Regions from separate parts of the Homo sapiens genome. Here region 1 is linked to region 2. Evidence: fine-mapped expression QTL. Tissue or cell type: adrenal gland. Region 2 holds a variant in brackets; the other region holds the start of a gene. All regions are shown on one strand. Distances are from middle to middle.

What was found. PIP is the estimated chance that this variant, and not a neighbour inherited with it, causes the effect.
Region 1: it holds the start of PHF21B, and the variant in region 2 is fine-mapped to the expression of PHF21B in adrenal gland (GTEx, PIP above 0.99).

The regions. Positions count from the first base shown.
Region 1 is chr22:45,008,453-45,010,952 of GRCh38, reverse strand. It overlaps PHF21B (PHD finger protein 21B), which reads left to right and starts at 948. Exons shown (of 13, transcript NM_138415.5): 1 at 948-1,457; 2 at 2,343-2,408. The coding sequence starts at 1,404. RefSeq lists an enhancer at 1,968-2,500.
Region 2 is chr22:45,100,771-45,103,610 of GRCh38, reverse strand. No RefSeq gene overlaps it. Among named protein-coding and RNA genes, the nearest start is that of NUP50-DT, 62 kb to the left of the region's middle. The variant A/G (reference allele first, on the strand shown) is at 1,587.

The DNA of each region.
Region 1 (2,500 bases), 92 kb after region 2:
AGCAATGTGTGACCTGTTGGCATATGTTGAAAGGGACATTTGCTGATGGTGCTTGCTTGGGTATTTTTTGTGCTGCCGGAGAGGAATCTGAAGTTAAAACGACTTAACAGCTTAAACGTTTACTTTGACATATGATTGCACCCTTTCTCCCCAGCGTGTTTCAAACGTGCCAGTTTGCTGCCAACAGGGCACCCGGCACTCCGACCTGAATGAAGATGGCAGCCCCGAGGTGGTGACAGTGACTCTGGGACATTAACCTCCTGGCTGCGCGGCTGGGGGTTCTGAAACGCGACCTCCGCAGCTGTAATTATAATTGTTTTAGGTCGCATTGACCGGGCCTGTTTACGACTCTTAACAAGAGTCTTAAAATGTCCAGTGACATCTGTTGAGAGTTTAATCGTGTAAAAAAAAATCATTAAAGGAAGAGCCAAGAGATCAATTTTCTTGCTGTTTAAACAACACGGAGGCCATCAGGCGGCGGGGGAATGTGGCGACGCGACTAATTTAATCCCCCAAGTCGCGGCGCTGGTATGGACAGGAGGGGACGGAAGAATTTAAATAAAATATCAGAGGGAGGCGGAGGAGGGGGGAAAGGAGGGAGCCGAGGACCAGGGTGAGGAGAAATGGAAACACGGACTCGCAGCCTCCCAGCGGAAAGTGTCCTGATCCCGGCGTTACACGGCGCAGGGGGTGGGGGCGCCGCGTTCCCCGGGTTGGCCCGGGGACGGAGAGGATGACTCCGCAGTCGTCCTCTCCGAGCGCCCGGCCCGAGCAGTCCCCGGAGCCGGCGACCGTGCGTCCCCGTCCACCGCCACTTTTGTTCTCCGCTCGGGGTGCCGGGCCGCGGCGGGGCGGCAGTGCGCAGGCGCGGGCGGGGCGGGGGCGGGGCGCGGCGGGCTGAGGGTCCCGGCACCGCCCCCCGCCGCCCCGGCCCGCTCCATCCGGGCACTGCCGAATTAGCATCGTGCCGAGGCACAACTTTGCCGAGGCCCAACGAGATCCAGGCGCGCGCGCCGGAGGAAATATAGTCCCTGCCCGCGGGAGGCTCGCGCGGGAGGAGGCGGCGGCGGCGGCGGCTGGGCGGGCGCGCGCGGGGCTGCGCGGGGCTCCCGGCGCCGGGGGGGCCATGCTCCGGGCCGCGCCGGCAGCCCGGGGACCCGGCGCAACTTGCCGGGCAGCCTGAGGAGTTGGGGCAGCCGAGGGCTCGGCGCCGCGGCGCCCGGAAGCCTGTCTTCCCCTTCGCCAGCCCCCTTCCCTTTCGGCCGTGGGGGAGGGGGCTCGTGTCCCCCCCAACCCAGCCCGGAGGCCGCGTCCGCCCGCGCCCGCTCTGGCCCCCGCGGAGCCGCGCAACTTCCCGGGAGCCCGGGCCAAAGTGAGCGCAAAGTGCTGCCCAAGTTGCCGGGATGGAGCTGCAGAGCCGGCCCGAGGCGCTCGCCGTGGAACTCGCGCGCCACCAGGTAGGTGGCCGGGGGCCGGGCCCGGGGCCGGGGAGTGTGTTGCGGGGTGAGGGGGTCGGGGGACCCGAGCCCAGCATCCTCTCTTCCGGGTCTCTGGGTCTTCCAGGCTGGAGCCTGCCCGGGGGCGGGGGGCGAGGGAGTGAGCACACGCGCGGACCCCCTTCTGGGCTCCCCTCCGCCTGCCCCTGGCGCTGTCCTGCACAGTTTGCGGGATCGAGGACGCGTGGGACCCGAGCCTGGAGTCTTCTCTTAAGCGATGTAGGGTCTGCATGACTGGGAGGGTGCCTGGAGGGGGCCCCTTCGTGAGCCGGTCCCGGGGAGGGGAGTGCGAATAGGCCCCCTTCCGGCCTCCCCTCGGGCCCCCGCGCCCCGGGCGAACCTGCCCGGTGTGCAGAAGTAGTTTTGGCGATCGCTGCTGGCGAGCGGCGGCGTGGCGGCCGGAGCCTGAGCGGGGCTCGGCGTGCGCGTGTGTGTGTTGGGGAGATTAGGACGCGACTTGAATATTTATGAGCTTTGCTCGACACGGACTCGCCGTGTTTACTTGGCTCTTTGTTCCTCCCCCCTCCCCCGGCACACACTCACACTCACACTCACTCGCACACGCACCCCGGCCTGCAAACTTGCACGGCTCGGGGCGCGCCGCCGGGTGGCCTCGGCCCCCGCCCCGCCCCGCGAGCTGCCCCGATGAGGCGGCAGCCACAGGTAAGCGGCCCCGCGCGGCACTGCCCGGCCGCCGCGCGTGCAGGACGCGGCCCGGGAAACTTGGGGTGCGCTGCGGCCGGCCCCGCCCGTGGGGCTCCGGGCGGGGGGTGCCGCGGCCCGCGGTGCTGGGGTGCACCTGACCCCGGGTGGCCTGCCTGAGCCCGCTCCTCCGTGTTTCCGCAGAACGGCGACCTCAAGAAGCAGCTCCACGAAAGGCAGCCGCGGATCGCCGCGCTCAGCGACAAACAAGTAAGCGATGGGATCGCGGCCCCCCCTGGGATGGGGCGGGAGGGTGGCTGGGCACTTTGGCGGCGCCCTAAAAAGTGCCAGCCTGGGCGACG
Region 2 (2,840 bases):
GACAGGGTTTCACCATGTTGGCCTGGGTGGTCTCGAACTCCTGACCTCAGGTGAGCCGACTGCCTTGGCCTTAGTCAAGGCCAGCACTTTGGGATTGCAGGTGTGAGCCACCTCGCCCAGCCAAATTTTTTTTTTTTTTTTCAGAGGCTGGGGCTGGCTTTGGCTATGCTGATGTCATGGCTCAAGTGACATCCCCAGGCCTCAGTTTCTCCATCTCTTTGCTCTGTTTTCTCATTAGCTGGCTTCATTCTCAGACAGACTTACTCTGTGCAACATGGCAGCTCCCGGCTTCCATGACCCTCGGTGCTTGAGTGCCCCAAAGGAGAGAAATTCCCTTTCCCCAAGTGTTCAGCTCTGCCAGGCTGCCATCCCCTCCCCACCCCATCGGGCACTACATCTGTGCTTTGGGGGCTGCTCAGGAGCCTGCCTGACCTGGGGGAAGCAGGGACATCCACGCCGAATTACACAGAGCAGGACAGCAGCAGGCAGCAAAGGAAAGGGGAAGGAACCCGAGCAGGGAGAAGCAACAAGTGTCAATTAATCATAGGAGGTGAGGCCAGCTTTTGCCTGCAGTCAAGGGACATGAATATTGAGACTCTAGGTCAGCAAGTGACTTGTTTTAGCTCTTACCTATAGGACAAGAACTTAAGAATCTCTTCTGCTTCTCCACTCTGTGCTCTTTTTCCTGCATCTTTTTTGAGATAGAGTCTTGCTCTGTTGCTCCCCAACCCCCATCTTTTTTGAGATAGAGTCTTGCTCTGTTGCTCAGGCTGGGGTGCAGTGGTGCAATCTCAGCTCACTGCAGTCTCGACCTCCTGGGCTCGAGCTATCTTCCCACCTCAGCCTCCTGAGTAGCTAAGACTACAGGTGCATGCCACCATTCCCAGCTAATCTAAAACAATTTTTTTTTTTTGTAGAGACAGGGATCTCACTATGTTGCCCAGGCTGTTCTTGAACTCCTGGGCTCAAGCGATCCTCCTGCCTTGGCCTCTCAAAGCATCAGAATTACAGCCACTGTCCCTGGCCCCTGCACTTTTTACTAAAATCTCTTGATGTTGTGAAGTAAGTCCCTGTCCTGATGGGACTTGGCCATGGCATTCCCTAGGCATTAATTTTGTTGCTAGAACTTGGACACATGGTCAGAGTGGAATCTTGAGACTTTTTTCTTTGTAAGATCTTATATTATTATTATTACTTGCATATTCATTGTAGAAAATTTTAGAAAATACTAAAACTCATAATCCAGTCTCTGAAAGGTAGCCACGGCCAACAGGTTGGCATATTTCTTTCTTTATACCTGGGTACGCTGGTGCTCTATGTACAATTGTGTACCTGCTTTCTAAACTAGAAAATCTCAAGCTCCTCAAGTTGGTAGCGTGATGATTGGCCTGGGACTCCTGAAGTTCCAGCCTCAGGACAGGACAGGACCTGTCCCTGGGACCATGTCCGCTAGCAAGGGGCACAGATGACTTCCCATTTCTGCCTGGCCACATGGCTCCCGATGCTTGGGCTCAGTCTGCAGATGTGATGGAGGAGGAAGGACACGTGCCTCCTTGCTCTGTCTGCTCTCCTTTTCTCTTTGCGCC[A/G]CCCGGTGGCAGATGAGCAGGACATCCACACTGTCTTTGATGGTTAGGTGCACGACCCCTGACTCCTCACCCCCCCACCTCACCCTAGAAGGATTTGTGAAGATGGTTTCTGAGTGTTCGATGGCCTTCTAGGCTGACAGCGGTGGGTCCCCGGCGATGGTTCTGGCACACCCCCAGCCCATTTACGAAATGCACGCTGTTTACTCCGCGTCTCTTGAGTGGGTCCCAGGGGACCATTTTCCTCCCTTAGGTAAGTCCAAGCTTAGAGAAGTTCAGCACACACAGATTATGCACTCAGCCGACTGAAATGATTTTCTGTTGCGATTAGAGTCAATGGTGAAAATCACACACATCACTTCGTGAAGTAAATTATTGTTCGCTTGATAGATCCTAATAGCTCTCCAGAGTTGTTAAGGCCTAAACAGTCCATGGAGAGTTTGGGGAGGTAGGAGGGTGGGAGGCAGGGGGAGACAGAGTGGGTGAGGGGGGAGGGGAGAAGGGGAGTCTCATCATTCCAGAAAGCAAGGCACGATAAGACTGGCATGCGATGCGCTCTTACTGGAACTCCAATCCTTAACTACTTCTGTACTTCATGGGCTCATAAATATCGCCGAGTCCTTTTCTGTATTTCCGTGCACAACTTTCTGTTTGGCTGATGCCCAGCTCTCTCTTTTTCTGTCAACCCGTTGTCATGCGTGTAAAACACAGAGGAAAGTGCCGGCTGTTAATGTCATCATCGTGCACAGCTGGCTCCTGCTCTGCTTCGAAGCTTAACTCAAGATCCACCTCTGGGTGATACACGACCCTCTACACCCCCTTTCCTCTGAACGCTGATGATGGTGACAGTGATGATTATGACGAAAGCAATGGTGATGGTGACGATGATGATGACAAACAATACCCATTGGCCACTGTCCGTGGGTCCAGCACCGCCTTCTTCAAGACCCTATTCTAAATCCTTTATTCATATCAATCAGTTTAATAGATGGTGTGTCAAGGGAAGCCAGCTGATGTTATCCCTGTTACACGAATCAGGAAACTGAGGCAGGAGAGGCTGAGTGACCCTCCCCGGTCAATACGGCTTGTTAGATGCAGAGTGAGGATCTGAACTCAGGCCCCCAGGCCCTCGTGGGTGAGGCTGCCTCTCCAGGGATCATAGCACTTGGTTTGGCACTTGTACCCCTGCAGGAATTATGAGCTAACTGTCTACACTGCTAAGCTGCCTCCCAGTCTCAAAGCTAAAGAAACCCTCAA